7 linked regions of the Homo sapiens genome follow. The protein of the gene in region 2 purifies or fractionates together with the protein of the main gene of each other region. This does not show direct contact. Each region holds a gene or a part of one and is shown on either strand. Other genes may lie near its edges.

Region 1 (3,500 bases), on a different chromosome or scaffold from region 2:
GTCTGTATTGGTCATGTGTGGCCACTGAAGTCTCTGTTCTGTTAGCTTAGTGTTCAGCTTGGGATTAATTTGTCAGAGATTTTTTTAAATACCTGGAACCCAAAAGATGACCAGTCTTTGCCAATGGATCTGAATTACATGTTGGAGCATGCCTTCAAAACTCAGCTAAAGCATCTTACAACTCTGACTTAGCCTTCAGTTCCTTCTTATGCAGAGCCTGAAGGTCAGTCAAAGGTGAGGGCTTGGTGCCTTCTCAGATCTTCTCTGAGCATGTGTTCATCCCTGGGTATGAGCATGGCCTTCTAGAAATGTGTGGAGGCCGGGCGCAGTGGCTCATGCCTGTAATCCCAGCACTTTGGGAGGCTGAGGTGGGCGGATCACCTGAGGTCAGGAGTTGGAGACCAGCCTGGCCAAGATGGTGAAACCACATCTTTACTAAAAATACAAAAAAATCAGCCAGGCGTGGTGGCAAATGCTTGTAATCCCAGCTACTTGGGAGGCTGAGGCAGGAGAATTGCTTGAACCCAGGAGGTGGAGGTTGCAGTGAGCCGAGATCACACCACTGCACTCTAGCCTGGGCGACAGAGCAAGACTCCATCTTGTGGGGGAAAAGAAGGTGTGGAAAGATGCTCTACTCCTCAGAGCATCTTGTTCCCAACTTCTCCTCCCAGGTTTTTTGGTTAGTCTTTTGTTTGCTTCACAGTTTTCCCTTGCCCCATTGAGCAGTGGCTGATTTGCCTTTAGATGTGTTGGGACACACTTCCCTCTCCACCCTCCAGCTTCCATAGGTGTAGCCTCTTCAGACCTGGGAGAGTTTGGAGTTACACAAATAAAGGGAAGCCCTTTGATCCAGCCCATCAGGGAGCCAGCAGACAGGTCAGAAGAGAACAGCCACAGGTTTTTGAGAATAAGGTGCATTCTGTTCCCTTCAGCACTAGAAACACAGGTTGTTGTCCTCAAGGCAAAATGGGGAATAGAGTGTGCAGCTAGAGTCAGTTAAAATGTCACAAATCTCTCTTACCCAGATTCAGCTGTTTGTCTTGATTAGGCATTCTCCTGTGGCTGTAAACTTTTGATGACATTCAAGAGCTCCAATGAAGTTGATTCTGTGTTTGCCCATTTACATACTGTTTTTGTGAAGGGATGGAGTTGTGGAGTTCCCTACTCCACTACCTTCACTGACATTACTTCGTTTAAGTCCTTCATAAGCACCTCTGTTCCTAGGTCTGTGCTGGGATGTGGGAGTAGTGAAGAATGCAACAGACATGCCCCCCACCCTCATGGAGCTGTCTGTCTAATGCTATCTGTATGAAATGAAGATCTCCTTCTTTCCCTGACTATATATTCTCTGTAGTTAAATCTTTTGGGCTTTCAGATTCTGTATTTAAACCTGGACAGGGGCTCCTGGGACCAGTTATCCTGCAACCACCCTAGATATTGCTTGTGGGGTGTGTGTGTGTGTGTGTGTGTGTGTGTGTGTGTGTGTGTGTGTGTGTGTGAGTGTTTAAGACGGTTGCTATATTTATTCAATTTTGGCATAATTATTTCTCTGCTCCTGAAGTCACACCTCTTCACCTTCAGAACTGATTTCAGTTTCATGGGAGAGCTTGTCTGCTGCACAGTCCCCCTACATCATGTGTCTTTTCTCCATGTACAGGGAACCAAGTTGATAAACCTAGGCTGATCTCCCAGCTGGAGCAAGAAGATAAAGTGATGACAGAAGAGAGAGGAATTCTCTCAGGTACCTGTCCAGGTGAGCACCAGGTGGATATAAGTCCTTGTGAGGAACAGCTCTGGCCAGGGACTGAGAAGTTGGGAGTATTATAATACATTAGGAAATATCAGTCAGAGAACTGTGTAAATGCCCCTTTTCCCAAGAAGGCCAAGAACGTTTGGTCTGAGCCCCCTCATGTACCTTCATGACTTCCAACTTTCTGTCATCTCATACTTTACTTGGGCCTCAGGGGAGAAAAAAAGACATCTCTTTTTCTGAAATTTAAGTCTCCTATGAGCTCTTTGATCAGTTTCAGTCCACCTTGCCTTCCTGACAATTCCTTCATTCTGTCAACATCAATCTCAATCTTCCTAGAGTCTTTCTTAAACATTGCCTAAAATTTTCACACCCATATCTCTTTCACCGAATGCCTTCTCAAAAACCCTCACCTCTCAGATTCTGCCTTCACTCACGTATGCATTTTACTATTTCACCATCAACTTAAAATTTGCCTCTTTTCTATCAACTTAAATTTCTTTTTAACTTGTTTCAGATGTGGAGAATCCATTTAAAGCCAAAGGGTTAACTCCTAAGCTGCATGTTTTTCGAAAAGAACAATCTAGAAATATGAAAATGGTAAGACTAACATGGGTGATTCCTGGTTTTTTTCATGGTAGAATGCCCTACATGAGAAAAGCCACAAGGACTGGCCTTGTTGGCCAGGCACAGTGGCTCATGCCTTTAATCCCAGCACCTTGGGAAGCTGAGGCAGTTGGATCATGAGGTCAGGTCAGGAGTTGGAGACCAGCCTGGCCAATACGGTGAAACCCCATCTCTACTAAAAATACAAAAAAAACTTAGCTGGGTGTGGTGATGCGCACCTGTAATCCCAAATACTTGGGAAGCTGAAACAGAAGAATCACTTGAACCCTGGAGGTGGAGCTTGCAGTGAGCCGAGATTGTGCCACTGCACTCCAGCCTGGCGACAGAGCAAGACTCTGTCTCAAAAAAAAAAAAAAAAAAAGTGGCTTTATTAAATAGTTATTAAAGGAAAGTGTCATTTTTTTCAAAGATAAAGTAGTACCTCTGGAGAGATACTGTGAAATTATTTTGAATTTGGAGAAAAGCATTAGTTAGCCCCAAACTTGTTTTTCCTGAGAATTCCCACAAGTAAATATTTCCAGTAGTCTGAGTCAGATATTGGATATTTGAAAAAGAAATTAGCCTTAAATTTATCAAAAATACTCTGTGAATATGATAAAGATTTGTAGAAAGAATCCATCTTCTTTAAATGCTAAGAATTCAAACTGACAGAAGCCATGTACCAGCACTCATGATGGCAAAAACATTAATTCCAATACTATGATACACAACAGAATTCCTGGGAGAGGAAATTCCTCTGACAGCATTCAATGTTAAAAATATTATAAATGGTACTTATTGTCATCTCTTAATCAATAGGAGAGGAATCATCTTGGAGCAACACTCAACGAATGTAATCAGTGTTTTAAAGTCTTCAGCACAAAATCTTCCCTTACACGGCACAGGAAGATTCATACTGGAGAAAGACCCTATGGCTGCAGTGAATGTGGGAAATCCTACAGCAGTAGATCTTACCTTGCTGTTCATAAGAGAATCCACAATGGGGAGAAACCCTATGAATGCAATGACTGTGGGAAAACCTTCAGCAGCAGATCTTACCTTACTGTTCATAAGAGAATCCACAATGGGGAGAAACCCTACGAATGCAGTGACTGTGGGAAAACCTTCAGCAATTCCTCATACC
Region 2 (3,500 bases):
AACAATATTCTGCATGCCACTGTTATACTTTTCATACTTCTCAATCAATCCATTTTACCAAGATATAGAAACACTAACATTTCTGACATTTTGAATGATTTGCTGAGAGATTAAGATTTATTTCTTTTGCTTGGGTATAGCAACACACTCTTACTGTTTGCTGATCCCCTTTATCTCAGAAGATCTTTTCAAAGCTTGAAAATAATCTCGTAAAGAAGTCTTACAGTTGGGGAACTCCATTAATCAACTGAATTTAATGTCTCTGGATTGAATGATCAGATATAAAATCAATAGGCCTTTCCAAACAATTATCACATGTCATTTGGATTCACTAAATAAAGTCTACTATAAGTGTATCTGTATAATGTATAATGCTCATCTTGATATGGTTAGTTTTTAAAGTTTCTAAAACTATTTTCGACCTTGCACTTCCCTGACACCAAACACCTATTCCCAATATTCTTAAAGTTCTCTAAATCATAGGGTCCTGCTACCTTCCTGGGGCCAGGTGACATTCTACACAACCCCTGTCAGGCCTGCTCTTTCAGGGTCGGTCAGGGCCTACAAGATCCTGGGGCAGGCACCACAGACAAAACACGGCCCTGGACTTTCTCCTGCTCAACTGAACAAGTATTTGTTGAATATCATTTTCACGCCAGGTAAGATGTTCACCATTACCTCTGTCAAGCACTTTGATTTTGCTATTTTGCCTTAATATCTTGCTACACTTTTATGCAGAAAAGCTCACTTATATTGCGTTTGCTTTCTTTGATGCTGTAGCTTCTAGACCCAAAATCAAGTTTATATAACACAGTTAAGCTGAGAGACAGGTATGGACAGGACATTCAAGTGCTATTCTTCATACCACACTAGTAAAATAATCACAAGCAGATGGGCAAAAGATGACTTTCAAAAGCCATAGCAAATCGGAATTTATAACAATACGATGTAGGGATGACATAACTCCTACAACAACAAAAAACTCATAAATCTATACTGTCTTTTTGAACAAATGCTTCCAAGAAACCAAATGAAAAGTAGCCATAAGTTATAAAAACAGTATTATAAGTAGTATCTATTAATATACTATGATAACTAAAGAAAATTTAAGCTGAGCACCTAAAGTACAAGCTACTCAGGAGGCTGAGGTGGGAGGACTGCTTGAGCCCAGCAGCTTGAGTCCAGTCTGGGTCCAGAAGTTTGAGTCCAGCCTGGGTGACATAAAGAGACCTTGTCTCTTAAAAAAAAAAAGTAAATATAAAAGAAAATTTAGGCTGGGCGCAGTGGCTCATGCCTGTAATCCCAGCACTTTGGGAGGCCGAGGCGGGCAGATCACCTGAGGTCGGGAGTTTGAGACCAGTCTGACCAACATGGAGAAACGCCGTCTCTACTAAAAATACAAAACTAGCCAGGCATGGTGGTGCATGCCTGTAATCCCAGCTACTCAGGAGGCTGAGGCAGGAGAATTGCTTGAACCCAGGAGGCGGAGGTTGTGGTGAGCCAAGATTGCACCACTGTACTCCAGCCTGGGCAACAAGAGCGAAACTCCATCTCAAAAAAAAAAAAAAAAGAAAAAAAAAATGTACAGACTGAAAATCTAATTCCACTATTGCATTTACCTCGACCATCTGGCTCCATGACTCAGTTATATATCCAGTAATTACATTATGAAATCTATTTTTCTAGATTTTAATTGAAGTCTCTTTTTATTTATATAAGCATTTGTTAAAGAATCATAAAATTTTAAAAATTAAGCCAGGAAAGTGTTTAAGCTCCCAAACAAATGGCTGTCCAGAAGCCTCCCTTGTAACTTCACTTACGTGGCTAACCCACTTCACTGTGTGTTAGGTGATGACAGAATTCCGATCAAGATCCCTGATTCTGGGTTGGTTAGTCTTCCTATTAGTCAATGGTCACCTCACTGCTGATTTGTAAGTTCCTGAAGTGACTGCCCTAAATCCTTACAACTACTTTAAAATAGTTGTAGGTGCCCATTCCCACCAAGACTAGGCTTAGGCTTCCCAACCATGTAGGAAGTTTCTTGACAATAGGAATCATATCTTAAATATCTCTGATATCTTCACAATGCCCAGAACAAGACTGGAGACATAGATGTCCTTAGTAAAAAGCTGCTGAATTCAAACCAAAGAATAAGATCTAAAGATGTAATTTCATTATGAGATCAAGCCAGAATTGAGACTTGCTGTTAAATCATCAGGAGTTATGTCTGAATACAAATCAACAGACAGGTTATTGGTTAAAGAACAGTCCTCCTATAGTTCCCAATGTTGAAGTTATCAAACCCTGGGGTATGGGTTTCTCTCTGGCTTTTCCTAAGGGAAATAAAAGCTTCTTCCATCCCCTGTCCTGTGAGGATAATAGCAGAACTAATTCATCTTAAATGGAGTTAAGAATGCACTGCTTGTTGACACAGGCACACACAAATAAAATAAACACACATTTCCTAAAATAATTATTGTGTCCAGAAGCTTACACTGTATTAGGAGGGTCCTCTTTTGCCTATATCAGCATTGGTATCAAAAGAGTTTTAGCCCTTTTGACCTTAAATACCGTAACACATGCAGGAAACAGGAGAAGGATTAGGAAAGGAGGAACTAATCATACCAAACTTCTGTTACTCGTGGATAATGACAGTAAGTACTGGGAAAATAATAACCATATCAAGAAGAGGCCTTTATATAGCAAGTCAGAGAGAGTTCTGAGATGAGTATATTTAGATTAGAAGAGCTGTAGTATCTATTTATGATTAATGTCTATTTCTCCATAGGATACAAAGTTTAAAAATTAAAACTGCCATATTTAGCACCCAGAACTAAGCAAAGCCTGATGAGTTCTTATTTTAACCCATAAATGCTAGGTTTCTTTGCTTGCTCAATATATATAATCACATTCCTCTGAATAGGAAAAAATCCAAAATGATAAAGCAGAATTTTTCTAATATTTATGATCAGAAAAACATACACAAGCCACAAGAAATTACTTGCACTTTTCTTTGCCTTGTGAGTTAGGTCAGTTTTAAGTGCCAAGGCTGGTTGTTGTGGTGGTGGTTTTGTTTTGTGCACGCCCATCCCCAAACTAGAAGGTGGAAATCTAAATCAAAATTTTTTACATTTTGGCACAGTCTGCACTTCAGAACATAAGCTACATCTAAGACTACTCAAACTGCAGTAGGATCTGATGAAAAGGGGAAGAAGAGTCAATTAATGAGGAATTCTAGAGATGCTTTTTAAAAAATCTGGAAGCTGCTTTAAAAAATAGCTTCAATTAGCTAGTTTGATATGTTACATTGGTAAAGAGAAATAATCATTCAGATAAACAGAATTAGAAGATCACAAGCCTTCTTAAATGATCATGATGTATTATAAAGTATGTTTCCTTTAAAAACAAAAAATCAGAACCCAAAACGAACCTGTCCTGTGTGATCGGGAAGTAAAGCTGGTAATCAATTCCATTTACTTTTATTCTTCCACTTCCATGTT
Region 3 (3,500 bases), on a different chromosome or scaffold from region 2:
TCACTCTACTCTGGATGAAAATAAATTGTGCCCAGAGGATCTTGCCAATGAGCCATAAACCTTAGACCTACTCATGACACTGCCATCTTTCTCCACCCTCTAGTCCCACCAATTTTACTTCCTGAATCTCAAACCCAGCCATTAGTTTCCATCTTCTCCACCATTCATAAATCCACCTTGTCATCTTTTACTTAGAGTAAGGCAGAGGCCGAGTATGGTGGCTCACACCTATCATCCCAACATTTTGGGAGGCCGAGGCAGGAGGATTGCTTGAGGCCAGGAGTTTGAGGCTAGCTGGGGAACATAGCAAAACCCCTATCTCAAAGAACATTTTATTATTTTGGCCGGGCACGGTGGCTCACACCTGTAATCCCTGCACTTTGGGAGGCCGAGGCGGGTGGATCACCTGAGGTCAGGAGTTCGAGACCAGTCTGGCCAACATGAAGAAACCCCATCTCTACTAAAAATACAAAAAATTAGCCAGGCATGGTGGCAGGCGCCTGTAATCCCAGCTACTCAGGAGGCTGAGGCAGGAGAATCACTTGAACCCAGGAGGTGGAGGCTGCAGTGAGCCAAGATTGCGCCACTGCACTCCAGCCAGGGCAACAAGAGCAAAACTCTGTCTCAAGAAAAAAAAGAAAAAGAAAAAGAAAAGAAAAGAAAATGTTATTATATTTTTTTTCTATTTTCCATTTTTCTTTAAGACATCCTGCCTCTATTAGAAATTCTTTTTTAAATAGAGGCCTGGCATGGTGGCTCACACCTATAATCCCAGCACTTCAGGAGGCTGAGACAGGTGGATCACCCGGGGTCAGGAGTTCGAGACCAGCCTCGTCAACATGGTGAAACCCCATCTCTACTAAAAATACAAAAATTAGCCAGGTGTCGTGGTGCGCGCCTGTAATCCCAGCTACTCAGGAGGCTGAGGCAGGAGAATCGCTTGAACCCTGGGAGGTGGAGGTTGCAGTGAGCTGAGATCACACCACTGCACTCCAGCCTGGGTGACAGTGAGACTCCATCTCAAATAAATAAATACATAAATAAGTAGAATAAGCCAATAGCCCCCTAATTCTTCCAGCTACATCTAAACTGACTGTAATCTATTTTCCACAGTCGACATTCAGACTGGATGGTGCGCTCCCCTAATTTATCAGCTTTCCTTGCATTTGGGAGAAACAGGTGACACCTGTTACAGGGGCCAGCGTCTGGCATGTCTACCACACTCCCACTCACACAGGGTCACACAGCACTCCCCTGGGTCTCTCCTGCAGCCATACTGGACTTACGGCAGCATTTTGCCCCTGCCACTCAACACTCACAGTGTTGGAAGTCACACTTGTAAAGCGAATTCCTTTGTCAGAAACTGAAAATCTCACCTCTAAGAGCCAGCACCTAGTGTCCTCTTGGACAGATAAATTTTTTAGTTGTGTTTGTGCTCTAGCTCGCTTTTTTAAAATTTTGTTTATTTATTAATTTTTTTTGGCGGGGAAGGGGACAGAGGCTCACTCTGGTAGCCCAGGCTGGAGTGCAGTGGCACAATCTCGGCTCACTGCAACCTCCACCTCCTGGGTTCAAGCGATTCTCCTGCCTCAGCCTCCTGAGCAGCTGGGATTACAGGCGCGCACCACGACACCTGGCTAATTTTTGTACTTTTAGTAGAGACGGGTTTCACCATGTTGGCCAGGTTGGTCTCAAACTCCTGACCTCAAGTGATCTGCCCGCATCGGCCTCCCGAAGAGCTGGGATTAAAGGGATGAGCCACCGCACCCGGCCTTTTTTTTTAAATTTTTGACACAGGTTCTTGCTCTGCCACCCAGGCTGGAGTACAGTGGCATGATCATGGCTCACTGCAGCCTCAACCTCCCAGGATCAAGCAATCCTCCTACCTCAGCCTCCAGAATAGCTGGGACTACAGGCATGCACCACCATGCTAAGCTCATTTTTTATTATTTGTAGACAGGGTCTCACTATATTGTCCAGGCTGGTCTTGAACTCCTGGCCTCAAGTGGTCTTCCTGCCTTCGCCTCCCAAAGTGCTGGGATTACAGGTGTGAGCCACCACACCCAGCCTTAGTATGCCTTTCCTGTCAACAGGAAATTGGTCAACAGGCTTAATTTTAACAATTGCAAAGAAACTACTATCTGCCTAACTGCATACAACTTATCCTTGGTCTTTCAGCTATCCATAATTTACTTTGATTCCGACTGGTACTAGTTAATGATTTTTCAGTTTATTGTGTGGATTTACAGAATTTGTTTCAAATACACACCGAACAAAGTTGGGAGAGGACACACATTCAAGACACCAATCATTTAAAAAATAGGTTGGGGTGAAACACACATGACACTGTTACATCTCAGGGCTTAGCAGTGGACCAGGTTTGTAAGAGCAATGGTCAAAAGATGCTTGAGGCTGGGCGTGGTGGCTCACCCTTGTAATCCCAGAACTTTGGGAGGCTGAGGCGGGTGGATCACCTGAGGTCAGGAGTTCGAGACCAGCCCGACCAATATGGTAAAACCCCATCTCTACTAAAAATACAAAAATTAGCCGGGCGTGGGCGTGGTGGCGTGCGCCTGTAATCCCAGCTGCTCAGGAGGTTGAGGCAGGAGAATCGCTTGAACCTGGGAGGTGGAGGTTGCAGTGAGCCAAGATCAAGCCATTGCACTCCAGCCTGGGTGGCAGAGGGAGACTGTCTCAAAAAAAAAAAAAAAAAAAAAAACAACAAAACAAAGATGCTTGAGCTGAAACCAGCCCAGTAATCCCATAGACAGTTGTGGGTTTTTTGTTTTTTGTTTTTGTTTTTGTTTTTGTTTTTTGGATAAACATAGAAATTGACCCTTCCGCTGTTAAAGCTTGAAACCTGTATTTGTTTTGTCTGAGTTCCTTCCTCAGGAAAAGACCTTCAGATCTCTCAAAGGCAGGCAGATCACCTGAGGTCAAGATTTCGAGGCCAGCCTGGCCAACATGGTGAAGCCCCGTCTCTACCAAAAAATACAAAAATTAGCCAGGAGTGGTGGTGCGCACACCTGTAATCCCAGCAACTCAGGAGGCTGAGGAAGGAGAATCGCTTGAACCTGGGAGGCAGAGGTTGCAGTGAGCTGAGATTGCACCACTATACTCCAGCCTGGGTGACACAGCGAGACTCCCTCAAAAAAAAAAAATCAACTGAAACTCACCACAACTGAAACTCACCACAACAGATGTCTCCTTGCCCCCTCCCTAGTCTTGCTTTCTTACACATTGTTATATTTCTTCCATGCTGTATAAACCCCTAGTTTTAGTGAGTTAGGGAGATGGATTTGAGGCTGAGCTCCCATTTCTTCACCTACGGCAGCTGATTAAAGCTTCTTCCTTGGCAATACCCATTGTCTCAGTCATTGGCTTTCTGTGCAGCCAGTAGCAGGACCTAGACCAAACTCCTGGTGTTTCCGTAACCAAGCTTTTTTTTTTTTTTTTTTTGAGACAGGGTCATGCTCTGTCACCCAGGCTGGAGTGCAGTG
Region 4 (3,500 bases), on a different chromosome or scaffold from region 2:
GGTTTAGTAAGACAGTGCTTATGGTTTGTATGATTAGTAAGACAGTGCAATAAACCAAAAATTTAGGAGCATGTGGCTGCCGGTGGTGATTTTAAGTCAGTTTCTTGAGCCACCACTTCTTTTATGTTTTTATTCTTAGAGACAGAGTCTTGCCATGTGTCCAGGCTGGTCTTGAACTCTGGAGCTCAGGTGAGATCCACCCATCTCAGCCTCTACAATAGCTGGAACTCTAGGGCACATGCCACCATGTCTGGCTTTACCACTTCCTTCATTGTCTTACCTAAAACTGATATATGTGAGAACTTGGCAGTGGACAAGACCATAGGTGGTTTTTGTTTACTTTCTCCTGTTTCACATCCACTCTATTTCTGACATAACCAAAAAAAAAGGCATTCCTCTTGCACATTCCATATCTTCCTCTGGATCACTGCCCCATGATGTAATGGCTTCCAGGGTGTTAAGGAGACAGATGAAATATTGGAACCTGATGTTAATGTGAGTCCAGATGGCAATTGGAGACTTGTGATCCTAGGAGCATGTCTTCTTATCATTGAATTTGGTCTTGAATCCACAGGTTCTGGCCTATAGGAACAAGACATTTTCAGTAATGGAAGAAGGAGCTTCCAGGCTGGGGAAGATCATCATTTCCAGTGGTAGCTTGACCTGAGATGATACCTGACCACCACTTCTGGGAAGGCCCAGAATAGACAGAAGAGAGAGAACATACTAGAGTTGCTAGCCCCTAAGAGTTGAACGAAATGGGCAAGGCCCAGGTGAGGTTTGTTTTACCTATTTTGTCGTTTGTTTCCCAATGGGTCTGTGGAAGCTTGTAAAAGACAGTCTGGTTAAATGAGATAGTGTATGCTGATAAAAATCAGGATCTGTGGGAAAATAAGTTTAAGTTGGAATCTTAAAATCCTGGCAAATTAAGAAACAAGATATATGGATCAGGGGGTTTGTGAAAGTTCTTAATGTCGGAACATAGCTAAGTGACTGTTAAGACCCTGTGGGTTTTCTCTGCTTTAAACTGTGTCTCCTTTTTTTTGGCAGCTGAAATAACAGGAAACACATGAAAAATGCCACGATTGTAATGTCTGTGAGGAGAGAGCAAGGCAGTTCTTCAGGGGAGGTAAATTTGTCATTGCTGTGAGAGCTTGAGAAACTTCTTTCCTTCAGAGAGCTTTTGTGGTTGACGGTATCCTCAAAGTCAGCCTTGTAATAAAGGCATGGGATGTTTTCTATGGCTTTTTCCTGTTGTTTAGTGGGGTAAGCTAAGGAGTAATGCCAAAGGAAAACTGGATTGGACAAAATTCTTCGAAAATAGCGTGCCTTGAAAATAGAGGCTTCTGGTCATCTGACTTTGCCCAGTGATAAAGCCTGGAGTATCCAGTAGAATGAATGGGCTGCTTGACCTTTGAATGATCCTCCCTGAAGAAGAATTCTCTCATCCAGATTTTTGTTATTGAGACAGCAGGAGACAATTAACAGCTCCATTCTTTGGTAACAGCTTGGAATGCAGATACTGACAATGCTTCTTTCTTACCTTCTTAACTCCAGGTTCAAAAAACAAAGCACCAGTTCGGCTTGTTTTGCTTTTTCTATGTTTAATTACTGAAATGATACATGGCTACATTTGCACGCAAGAGATTCAAGCAAACAGAAGCATTTGTATCAAAAGACAGTATCTCCTTTCACCCTTTTTCTGCCCAAACTTCAACCCAAAGGATACTAAATAAGTGTTCATAGTTTGGGTCTCTATCTAGTTCCTCCCTGTGATTGACATCTGGTAGAATATATTCATATTTATGTACATTTATGTATACATACTTGTGTATACTTATACATATGTAATTATAAATATTATTACTTTTTTTCTCCCCCCAAGTTGGAGTCTTGCTGTGTCGCCCAGAGCTGGAGTGCAGTGGCGCAATCTTGGCTCACTGCAACCTCTGCCTCCTGGGCTCAAGCAATTCTCCTGCCTCAGCCTCCTGAGTAACTGGGATTACAGGTGCGTGCCACCACACCCTGCTAATTTTTGTATTTTTAGTAGAGATGGGGGTTTCACCATGTTGGCCAGGCTGGTCTCGAACTCCTGACCTCATGAGCCCCCTGCCTCAGCCTCCCAAAGTGCTGGGATTACAGGCGTGAGCCACCATGCCCAGCCATATTATTACTTTTTTTTTTTTTTTCCTCTTGAGACGGAGTCTTGCTCTGTCGCCCAGGCTGCAGTGCAGTGGCGCAATCTTGGCTCCCTGCAAGCTCTGCCTCCCGGGTTCATGCCATTCTCCTGCCTTAGCCTCCCAAGTCGCTGGGACTACAGGTGCCCACCACCATGCCCAGCTAATTTTTTGTATTTTTAGTGGAGATGGGGTTTCACTGTGTTAGCCAGGATAGTCTTAATCTCCCGACTTTGTGATCTGCCCACCTCGGCCTCCCAAAGTACTGAGATTACAGGTGTGAGCCACCACGCCCAGCCGTATTATTACATTTTTAAAATATGTCTTAGATCATATATTATTTGGGAGCTTAATTTTTTGCATTTAAGAGACTGCCTTGGAGATCATTGATAATCATGTGGGTATGTATACATCTACCTCATTGATTTTAACATTTTTGCAGTATATTATAGCATGGAGGTGCTGTAATTTAACCCTGTCTGCTTTTGATAGACATTTAGATTATTGGTAAGTTTTTCATTATGAGAAACAAAGGAATAATGAACAGTCTTATTACATGTTGTTTCATATCTATGCTAGTACTGCCTTCGTGCTTTTAGGGTAGGCAGAATTGGTGGAATTCCATGGTCCTTTGGTATGTGAAATAGCCATGGTGTGCATACGTTGTCATGGAGAAAAGGATCAAGACATGTCCCCGTCCCTCTTCTCCGCATCATCTATTGTTATCCACCTCAGATTGCATTGGAATTGTTATTATAGGGGTCATTGTCATTCGAAGATGTGGCTGTGGGCTTCACCAGGGAGGAGTGGCAGTTTTTGGACCAGTCTCAGAAGGTCTTGTACAAGGAAGTAATGTTGGAGAACTACATCAACCTAGTATCAATAGGTAAGGACAGCATTGCCGTCACTTACCTTTTCTTTCTTATTTGGTGACCACTGTACGGTCCCATAAATATTTAATGGTTTAGACTAAAGTATTATATGTTATAGATTTTTTGTTGTGGTGGTAAAATATATAACATAAAATTTACCGTCTTAACCATAAGCGTGCAGTTCAGTGGGTTAAATGCATTCGCGCACATAGTGTTATGCAGCCACCAACACTACCTTCTGTCTTCTAAAACTGAAACTCTGTACCCACAAAACAACAACTACTCATTCCCCCACTTCTCCCCAGCTCCTGGTGACCACCATTCACTTTCTGTCTTTAGGATTTTGACTTCTCTAAGTACCTCGTATAAGTGGAATTATATAGTGTCTGTCTTTTTGTGTCTGGCTTATTTCACTTATTATGATGTTCTCAAGGTTTATCCATGTTGTAGC
Region 5 (3,232 bases), on a different chromosome or scaffold from region 2:
TTTAGCTGTTACATTAGGTCACTGATGAATTTTGAGTTAACTTTTAAGTGTAGGGTGAGGTACAATCTAACTTCATTATGTTGTGTGTCTGTGTATAGGTGTCCCAGCAGTATTGGTCGAAGAGACTATTCTGTCTCCATAAAGTAATCTTGGATCCTTCTTGAAAATCAAGTGGCCTTAGATGTATGGGTTTCTTTATGGACTCTCACTTCTATTCCATTTGTATATATATCTGCCTCCTGGGTTGAAGCGATCCTCCCACTTCAGCCTCTCCAGTAGTCTCCAGCTGGGACTACAGACATACACCAACACAACTGGCTAATTATTGTATTTCTTGTAGAGATGGGGTTTCTGATGTTCACTGAGAAATCTAAAAATAATGCATACAATTATAAAATAGAAAAATACCAGCAAATATTCACTGCTGAAGAAAATAAGAATATAATTGTAACACACTATGTATGTACACTCAAAAAAAAAATTCCAGAAACACAGAGAGATGCTTGTCTAGAAACAAAGAAAGGTATTTATTTAATTTTTTTTTTTGGAGACAGGGTCTCACTCTGTTGCCCTGGCTGGAGTGCAGTAGCACTACCATAGGTCAGTGCAGCCTCAATCTTCCAGACTCAAGCAATGTAAGGATGCAGCAAAAATACAAAGACACATGTGGCTGACATTCTAGTGGTCATCAATTTTGACATGTTCATCATTAGTGTTTTGAAAGTGTGTGAACAAACTCTTATACTAAGACCTGTCTCCTGAATAATAACTAATTGTCAAACTTCTGTTAGAAACCCTGCAGCATTCTCTGCTCTGACAGTCCCACGACCACTGGGGTATGCTGAGCTATGGCTGAAACACTAACTTCAAACTGTCCTCAATCACATGGGGAAGCTTAAAAAGCTGATTTCTTAGAAGTAGTGAGAACAGTGGCTCTAGAGGCAGGGAAGGGTAAGGGATAGGTGGGATGGCCAAAGGTTGGCTAATGGATGCAAAAGTACAGGTAGATAAGAGGAAGAAGTTCTGCTGTTCTGCAGCACTAAAGGTGACTATCATCGACAACAATTTATTTTCAAACTGCTGGAACAATGAATTTTTAATTTTCTCAACACAAAAAAGAGATAATTGAGGTGATAAATGTGCTAATTACACTGATTTGATCATTATACATCATATACATATATTTAAATATCACACTGTACCCCATAAATATGTACAACACTTACGTGTCATTTAAAAATAATGATAAAATTATATCAAGATTCAAGCGCCTCTTGTAGCGCTTCCCACAGTCTTCACATTTGGATGGATTTTCTCCACTGTGGTTTTTTTGTTGGTCTTTACGGTATGACCGGTATACAAGCTTCTTTCCACAATCCTCACATTTGAATGGTTTTTTTCGGCAATGGAGTCTCTTATGATTCAAAATACTTGAGGCCTGTCTAAAGCTCTTCCCACAGTCATCACAGTTATAAGGTCTCTCTCCTGTGTGGGCTCTATGGTGCAAGTCAAGACCTGACTTAGTAATGTAGCTCTTCCCACACTTGTCACATTTGTATGGCTTTTCTCCAGTGTGGACTCGCTGATGGATCAAAAGATAGGAGGACCGTCTGAAGCTCTTCCCACATTCTTTACAATTATATGGTTTCTCTCCTGTGTGGATCGTCTGATGCTTACACAAATCCAGCCTACGAATGAAGCCTTTTCCATATTCCCCAGTGCTGTTTGGTTTCTTTCCTGTGTGGACCACACAATGCCTATTAAGACTTGACCTAAGACGGAAGCTCACACTACATATCTCACATTTGAATGGCTTCTCCCCTGTGTGAATTCTCTGATGTTTCTGAAGCTGGAAATCATGAATGAAGGCCCTCCCACATGCCTCACAATTATAATGTTTCTCTCCCATGTGTAATTTGCAATGAACTGTAAGTGCTGATCTACATCTGAAGCCTCTCCCACATTGTTCACATTTGAAAGGTTTCTCTCCAGTATGGACTCTCTGATGAGTTTGCAGATGTAAACTCTGACTGAATTCCTTACCACACACGTCACACTTAAAGAGTTTCTCTCCCAGGTGGACTCTCTGATGAATATGAAGCGCTGAGATGTAACAGAAGCTTTTTCCACACTCATCACAGGAATGAGACTTCTCTGCTGAGCGTATTTGCTGAGGAAGATCAAAGATGGACATATCACTGAAGGATTGTTTACACTTCCCACAATTGGAAGGTTTCTGTCCTGTGTGCATTATAGATAGTCCTTCCTCAACCTGGGAGTGGGCATCACCCTGTTCAAAGAACTGAGAGCTCTTTATGGTAGAGTCTTGAGGCCTGGTTAAATCACTTGCAATTTCTTCCCAGATCTGCTGGCAGGACCACCCTTCATGTGGTCCTGCTTCTGGAAAAGTCTTCATCTCAGGTTGGATCTTGCCTCCTATCAGAATACAAAATTAAGAGATCAGGACAAGCTATGCCCTGTTCAGTGTTTTTAAGAGTTCACACTTAGGACATGGTATGAAACTTCAACGAATGTTCAGTTTGTGTTTTCCAAGTGCACCCTGGTTTCTGGTTTGCATGAGAGTAATCTAAAACCATACCATGTCACTGGGGACGGTGGCTCACACCCATAATCCCAGCACTTTGGGAGACCAAGGCACTTTGGGAAGCTGAGGCAGGCAGATCACTTGAGGTCAGGAATTCGGGACCAGCCTGACCAACATAGTGAAACCCCGTCTCTATTAAAAATACAAAAATCAGCTAGGTGTGGTGGCACACACCTATAATCCCAGATACTTGGGAGGCTGAGGCAGGAGAATTGCTTGAACCCAGGAGGCGCAGGTTGCAGCAAGCCGAGATCGTGCCACTGCACTCCAGCCTGGGCGACACAGTGAGACTCTGCCTCAAAAAAAAAAAAAAAAAAGAAAAGAAAGAAAAAAACATACCACATTTCAAATAAAAAATCATTGATAGAAATAAAAGGTTTAATAAAAAATTAATATGACACATACATTTAACCTGTTACTGTTTTTAAAATTTCCAACTCAGTCTGAAATTTTACATGATAAATTACTAAACTATTATGTACGTAATGAAATATGAATCAAAAGGAACTCTAAGGGAAAGCAGTAACATAATAAATACTTCGTATATTTGCCTGTATATTATATATCCTTATAAAGAAGTTAACCTTCCTTTCAGTTTAAGATGGCTTAAAAAACATTTTTAAAAAT
Region 6 (3,500 bases), on a different chromosome or scaffold from region 2:
GGATAAGACATAATACTGTATAAACAGTATAATCACAACTAGTAATATGAATATGCATAAAAAATGTACATTAGTAAGTTAACAGTGATTATCTCTGGCTGATAAATTACAGGTGATTTAAATTTTATTTATGCTTTTTTATACTTTCTAAATTTCTACAATGAGCAGATATTATAATCAGAAAAATATTTTTAAATTTTTTTCAGTGTCTATAAGGGTAGATCTGCATTTATCAAGAAATCTAGATATTAGGTAAAAAGGACCTTTATAGAATACCCAGTCTAATACTCGAAGTAGATCCACTATTATATAATTAAAAGCTTATGACTAAAAATCCATTAAACATTTCCCATTCCCTGAAAGTACTTTATGTTCTTGCTGTTCTGTGCTCTAGAAATGTCTTTCATCTCTGCTTACTGAAATCTTAATCCTACTTTCAAGGAACTTTGTATTTGCTCCTTCCTTTCAAGAAGACTTTCTTAATCATCCAAAGCAAACATAAGCGATTTCTTTCATTTGGAAGCCTCAAAAGCATTCTTTGGCCGGTGTGGTGGCTCACGCCTGTAATCCCAGCACTTTGGGAGGCTGAGGCGGGCGGATCATGAGGTCAGAAGATCGAGACCATCCTGGCTAACATGGTGAAATCCCGTCTCTACTAAAAATACAAAAAAGCTGGGCGTGGTGGTGGGTGCCTGTAGTCCCAGCTATTCGGGAGACTGAGGCAGGAGAATGGCGTGAACCCGGGAGGCGGAGCTTGCAGTGAGCTGAGATGGCACCACTGCACTCCAGCCTGGGTGACAGAGTGAGACTCTGCCTCAAAAAAAAAAAAAAAAAAAAAAAAAGAATGCTTTTGTTTTTGAGACTGCAACCTCTCCTGGGTTCAAGTGATTCTCCTGCCTCAGCCTCCTGAGTAGTTAGGATTACAGGCGTGTGCCACCATGCCTGGCTAATTTTTGTATTTTTAGTAGAGACCGGGTTTCACCATGTTGGTCAGGCTGGTCTTAAACTCCTGACCTTGTGATCCGCCTGCCTCAGCCTCCCGAAGTGCTGGGATTACAGGCGTGAGCCACTGCACCCAGCCCTCAAAAGCATTCTTGCTCCTGGTCCCTGGCAACCACTCTGTCTGCTTTCTATCACTACAAATGAGACTTGTCTTTTCCAGAGTTTCATACAAATGGAATCACATGGTCTACACTATTTTTTTTTTTTTGGTCTGGTTTCTCTCCCTCAGTGTAATATTCATTAACAGGCAGATGATAAACAAATTATATCCATACAATGGGTTACCATTCAGTATAAAGAAGGCATGAACTCCTGATACATGTTAAGTCAGCTATGGGTGGGTTGTCCCACATTCTAACCTATGGAAGGGGCCCTGGGCAGTTAGCAAGGAGCAGGGACCTTCCAGCCCTGAGGGAAGTTCCACAGTTCTTTGGACTCAGTTATCCTTTCTCCATCAGCTCTCATCCATGGTGATGGTGGGCCACCTCTCACACAAGGACAGACTACTTCCAAGAGGTCCCACTAAATTCAAATAGCATTACAAGAACTAAAAGATGAAAGAAATTAGCTTGCACAAGAGTCTAGTTATTCAGGAAGCACATATTTAAGAAAGGGGTGGGGTGTTGGGACTGTCAACCATTCACTAAGTGTAGGGAGACATTACTCTCATATCCTTATACAGAGTAGAAACCATCTGAGAAATTGGAAATATTAAAATTATAAATGTGAATATCTTATTTTAAAATAAAATTCTTAAGAACTTTTTAATGGGTGTAGAAACATCATAACTTTATTTACAAAGATAATGAACTTGCCACAGTCGGGACCATAGATCTTTGGAGACAGGTGGGTATATATCTTCCAAAGGCATTTCTGTTTAAGACAAGGAACATACTGTGTTCTTCAGTCGCAAAACGATACATTACATTCTAAATGTGCATTCATATAACTGTTCAAAGTAATTTCTTTTTACATACAGATAACCTTAAATACTTAAACTTATGTAATAGTTTGCCATTTTCAAAACTAGCACTACCAAAGTTAAAAACTTTACCCTAAAAAGCTTTTAAAAAGCATAACTATTTCTGCTTTTCTGACCAAGGAACACAGAGAAAACTATTTCAAGACCCTGACTCTTAAGTGATGCTATTTTGGGAATGTGTGTATCATAATTCTTGATAGAAAATTTTTGTTTTGCTTTCCAAATCTAAAGTAAAATATCCTCTGCAAAAAAGCAATAGGTAAGACACTTCCCTCAAGAAAACTCTCCCATACTCACCAAAGCTACTTTAGTTGATATATTTAGACTTTTCAGTTCATTTACCCTGTTCCTCCATTGATTTATTAAACGTTGGACAGAATTTAGCTGAAAACGGAAGACAGAAAAATAACAGTTCAATATTGTATGTTTAAGTTAGTTTCTTCAATAAAAACTTCACATACTTCTTTGCCAAAATCACAAAAGGTTTATGTAACAGTTTTATGGCCCATGACTTGCAAAATTTGCATTGACTTGGCCTATTTGTCAAAGATATGCCAGCTCCAGTTCCCTCTCCCGTTCAACTCCTTGTATCATCTGGTTAGTATCACAAGTACCTGGCAGCACGTAGTTAGTTATATTTGGATGGGCGGTGAATACATGTACTAGTTGAAATGCATGATCATGACTGTAGAAACAGAAAAATACAGCATTTAAACTGCTTCCTTCAGGTACTCAACTTATTCTAGTCAAGATTTTTAATTTTTTTTGATATTTGATATATGAGGATGTTAATCTGTATTACAGACTGTATCTTATTTAACTTTGTTTTTCTAGCATTCATCACTGGATTGGTACCTAACAGATGTTCAATAAATATCTGTCAAATGATAAAAGGGTTTCATTTCTGGGATTGACTGTTGGGTAATTTATAATAAAAATAGTAATATTCCTAATTATTAAAGTAAAAATATATTATCATTTTAATAACCAACCAAATTCAATGAAAATAATATAGAAAAGAAAAATAGCCTACTCCTGAAAAAAGATCATAGACCTCATCGGTTTTGCCAAAACACAAGCCACGATAAAGAAAGCAGTAATTAAGAGCTCATCTGTTATTGCAGTAGATTAATAGGAAACAAACTTACATAACTCTGTAAGTTATTGCTGGTTAAGAAGTTATGGTATTCAAGCCTCAATTCCTCTGGTGAAATGTCTGTAAAACCTGAAGTGAGGAATCAATCGGAATCTTTAAAATAAATGCCAATAATTTTGATAGTAAAGCTAGAGGTGCTAAACAAGAAAATATCTAATGTTGATTAGAAAATTTTCATAACCATGAGGAAGAAACTTAAAGCCTACACTCTACTTAATGTTTAATAAAGTGTAAAATTACAGTAAAATATAGTTGGTTATTCTGATCTTTAAATGGGGAAGATTTTCTAAAGATAAGTGGCGTAGAATGAACAACAAACACAGGAGAAAGATTTGACTACATTTATATTCAAACTTTTAT
Region 7 (3,269 bases), on a different chromosome or scaffold from region 2:
TGAATGAGGTCTGAGCTATAACCAAAGGCTTTTCCACAGATATCACACTGATAAGGCTGCTCTTGTAACTCAATCTTCTTGTCTTCAATCACTGTCAAGTTCCAACTATATGCTTCCTCACAGATGCCATTTTTTTCATTTTTCTGACCCATGTGGAGCACCTGATGTTCAATTAGGCTAACGTACTGAAAAAAGATTTCCCCACATTCACGACACTGATGGGATTTCTCTCGGGAGTGGAGTCGAAGATGTCCAGCCAGGTGGGAACGCCTCCCAAAGCCTTTCCCACATTCGTTACACTTGAAGGGTCTCTCCCCACTGTGCACGCTCTGATGCTGAACAAGGTGGGACCTCACTCTGAAGGCTTTCCCACATAAGGGACAGGTGTAGGGCTTCTCACCTGTGTGGACGCGCTGATGCTGAGTTAGGTGCACGCGTTGGTTGTAGCTTTTCCCACATTCCTCACACCTGAATGGTTTCTCCCCAGTGTGTATTCTTTGATGTTGAATAAGATGTGCACTCTGAATGAAGCTTTTCCCACACTCGTTACATTTATGTGGTCTCTCTCCAGTGGAGGATTTTTTGTGGACATATGGGACTTCACTGTAGTTCATCCTCTTTGAAGATGGTTGTCCTAGTATCTCTTTCATGGGAATTCCCTGCTTTCTATCCAGCTTGCCTTGAAACTCACAGCCTTCTCCAAAATCTTGAACTTGAGAAACATTTCTTTGGGTTTTTCCAGATAGTTCCATGTCTGCTTCTGAATATTCTGAAATTTTCTTCTTAACACTTAATTTTGTGTTCTTACTTCTTTTGTCACTGCCTAAAAAAAATAAAGAGCAAGTGAAAATGTCATCAGTTCTTTTTTTTTTTTGAGATGGGGTCTTGCTCTGTCGCCCAGGCTAGAGTGCAATGATGCGATCTCGGCTCACTGCAACCTCTGCCTCCTGGGTTCAAGTGATTCTCCTGCCTCAGCCTCTCAAGTAGCTGAGACTACAGGCGTGCATGACCACACCCAGCTAATTTTTGTATGTTTAGTAGAGATGGGGTTTTGCCATGTTGGCCAGGCTGGTCTCAAACTCCTGACTTTGGGTGATCCACCCGCCTCAGCCTCCCAAAGTGCTGGGATTACAGGTTTAAGCCACCGTGCCTGGCCCATCAGTTCTTTTATAAAGGAAAAATAAACTGTCATAAAAAATGTTCATCAGATGAAACTATGATGTAACGGGAGTAACAGAGGTGGATGTGTGTGTGTACTTGATGCCAACAGGAATGTAAACAACAAACTTTTGGAATTTTCTGACGAAAAGAGCAAGACTCATCCACAGGATGGCAGAAAATATTTGCAAACTATGCATCAGACAAAGGACTAATATCCAGAATCTACAAGTAACTCTAACAAGTCAACAAGAAAAAAAAAATCCCATCAAAAAGTAGGCAAATGACATGGAGACAGTTCTCAAAATAATATATACAAATGACCAACAAACATGAAAAAAATGCTGAACATCACTAATCATCAGGAAGGTGCAAATTAAAGCCACAATAAGGTACTGCCTTACTCCTGCAAGAATGGCCATTATTAAGAAGTCAAAAGGCCGGGCGTGGTGGCTCACACCTGTAATCCCAGCACTATGGGAGGCCGAGGCGGGCAGATCACCTGAGGTCAGGAGTTCGAAACCAGCCTGGCCAACATGGTGAAACCCACATCTCTACTAAAAATACAAAAATTAGCTGGGCATGGTGGCGGGCGCCTGTAATCCCAGCTACTCAGGAGGCTGAGGCAGGAGAATCGCTTGAACCCAGGAGGCTGAGGTTGCAGTGAGCCGAGACTGCGCCATTGCACTCCAGCCTGGGCAACAGCAAGACTCCATCTCAAAAAAAAAAAAAAAAAAAGGCCGGGTGCAGGTGGCTCACGCCTGTAATCCCAGAACTTTGGGAAGCCGAGGTGGGTGGATCACGAGGTCAGGAATTCAAGACCAGCCTGACCAAGACAGTGAAACCCCATCTCTACTAAAAATACAAAAATTAGCTGGGCATGGTGGTGGGTGCCCTGTAATCACAGCTACTCCAGAGGCTGAGGCAGAGAATTGCTTGAACCCAAGAGGCAGAGGTTGCAGTGAGCCAAGATTGCGCCACTGCACTCCAGCCTGGGCAACACAGCGAGACTCCATCTCAAAAAAAACAAAGAAGTCAAAAAACAATAGATGTTGGCATGGATGTGGTGAAAAGGGAACGCTTATACATTGCTGGTGAGAGATAAATTAATACAACTTCTGTGGATAACAGTATGGAGACTTCTTCAAGAACCAGAAGTAGATCTGCCATTTGATCCAGCAATTCCACAACTGGGTATATCTACACAAAGGAAAAGACAATATACCAAAAAGACTGTAAGCGCCTGTCTTCTGCAGCACAATTCACAACTGCAAAGATATGGAGCCAATCTAAGTGCCCGTTGAGCAATGAGTTGATAAAGAAAATGTAGCAGGCTGGGTGTGGTGACTCGTGCCTATAATCCCAGCACTTTGGGAGGCTGAGGCAGGTGGATCACCTGAGGTCAGGAGTTCAAGACCAGCCTGACCAACATGGTAAAACCTCATCTCTACTAAACATACAAAAATTAGCAAGGGATCGTGGTAGGTGCCTGTAGTCCCAGCTACTCGGGAGGCTGAGGCAGAAGAATCGCCTGAACCCAGGAGGCAGAAGCTGCAGTGAGTTGAGATCACATCACTGCACTCCAGCCTGGGTGACAGAGTGAGACTCCATCTCAAAAAAGAAAAACAAAAAACAAATACATAACTGGGTGGTGAGAACTGACAAAAACTGGAAGAATGAGAGTGAAGGATGATGAAGAGGGTATGCAGTCAGGGAATATCTGACTAGGAGTCAGGAAATAAGGCAAAATGAGCCAACAAGAAGCATTGTCAGAGGGTGGGTGATACAGCAATCCCTGCCCCCTTCACCCTTAGCCAACATTCTAGCCTCAGTTTTCCTCCCCCGGCATGTCATCCTTCTCCTTTGGGAATGCTCATCACCTTTACTATCTGCTACCCCCACCAGACCATCGGCTGCATGAGAGCATGGACTGTATCTCTGTTCTGGTCACTGCAGATCCTGTGCAACTAGCAACACAGACTCTCAATAATATGGCTGGATGTGCAAAACATGTATTCCCCCTTTGATCCAGAAAAATGAGGGAGGACCGGGCATGGTGGCTCACACCTGTAACTCCTAGCACTTGTGGAGGCCAAGGCTGGAGGATCGCT

Evidence for each region.
Region 1: the proteins of MRPS9 (region 2) and ZNF557 purify together in Homo sapiens (co-immunoprecipitation; one large-scale study listed by IntAct). This does not show direct contact.
Region 3: the proteins of MRPS9 (region 2) and ZIM3 purify together in Homo sapiens (co-immunoprecipitation; one large-scale study listed by IntAct). This does not show direct contact.
Region 4: the proteins of MRPS9 (region 2) and ZNF577 purify together in Homo sapiens (co-immunoprecipitation; one large-scale study listed by IntAct). This does not show direct contact.
Region 5: the proteins of MRPS9 (region 2) and ZNF223 purify together in Homo sapiens (co-immunoprecipitation; one large-scale study listed by IntAct). This does not show direct contact.
Region 6: the proteins of MRPS9 (region 2) and NUP42 purify together in Homo sapiens (affinity purification with mass spectrometry; one large-scale study listed by BioGRID and IntAct). This does not show direct contact.
Region 7: the proteins of MRPS9 (region 2) and ZKSCAN5 purify together in Homo sapiens (co-immunoprecipitation; one large-scale study listed by IntAct). This does not show direct contact.

What each region holds. Positions count from the first base shown.
Region 1 is NC_000019.10:7,079,703-7,083,202, forward strand, and holds part of ZNF557 (zinc finger protein 557), read left to right. Parts: intron 1-1,657; coding exon 1,658-1,753; intron 1,754-2,267; coding exon 2,268-2,350; intron 2,351-3,175; coding exon 3,176-3,500. UniProt on the Homo sapiens protein: May be involved in transcriptional regulation.
Region 2 is NC_000002.12:105,093,569-105,097,068, reverse strand, and holds part of MRPS9 (small ribosomal subunit protein uS9m), read right to left. Parts: coding exon 3,431-3,500; intron 18-3,430; exon of another isoform or gene 1-17.
Region 3 is NC_000019.10:57,138,703-57,142,202, forward strand, and holds part of ZIM3 (zinc finger imprinted 3), read right to left. Parts: intron 1-3,500. UniProt on the Homo sapiens protein: May be involved in transcriptional regulation.
Region 4 is NC_000019.10:51,877,952-51,881,451, reverse strand, and holds part of ZNF577 (zinc finger protein 577), read left to right. Parts: exon of another isoform or gene 1-495; intron 496-574; 5' UTR 575-773; intron 774-1,050; 5' UTR 1,051-1,069; coding exon 1,070-1,129; intron 1,130-2,936; coding exon 2,937-3,063; intron 3,064-3,500. UniProt on the Homo sapiens protein: May be involved in transcriptional regulation.
Region 5 is NC_000019.10:44,065,268-44,068,499, reverse strand, and holds the end of ZNF223 (zinc finger protein 223), read right to left. Parts: intron 2,437-3,232; coding exon 1,223-2,436; 3' UTR 501-1,222; downstream 1-500. UniProt on the Homo sapiens protein: May be involved in transcriptional regulation.
Region 6 is NC_000007.14:23,195,548-23,199,047, reverse strand, and holds part of NUP42 (nucleoporin NUP42), read right to left. Parts: intron 3,210-3,500; coding exon 3,133-3,209; intron 2,369-3,132; coding exon 2,282-2,368; intron 1,876-2,281; coding exon of another isoform or gene 1,801-1,875; intron 1-1,800.
Region 7 is NC_000007.14:99,528,662-99,531,930, reverse strand, and holds part of ZKSCAN5 (zinc finger protein with KRAB and SCAN domains 5), read right to left. Parts: intron 824-3,269; coding exon 1-823. UniProt on the Homo sapiens protein: May be involved in transcriptional regulation.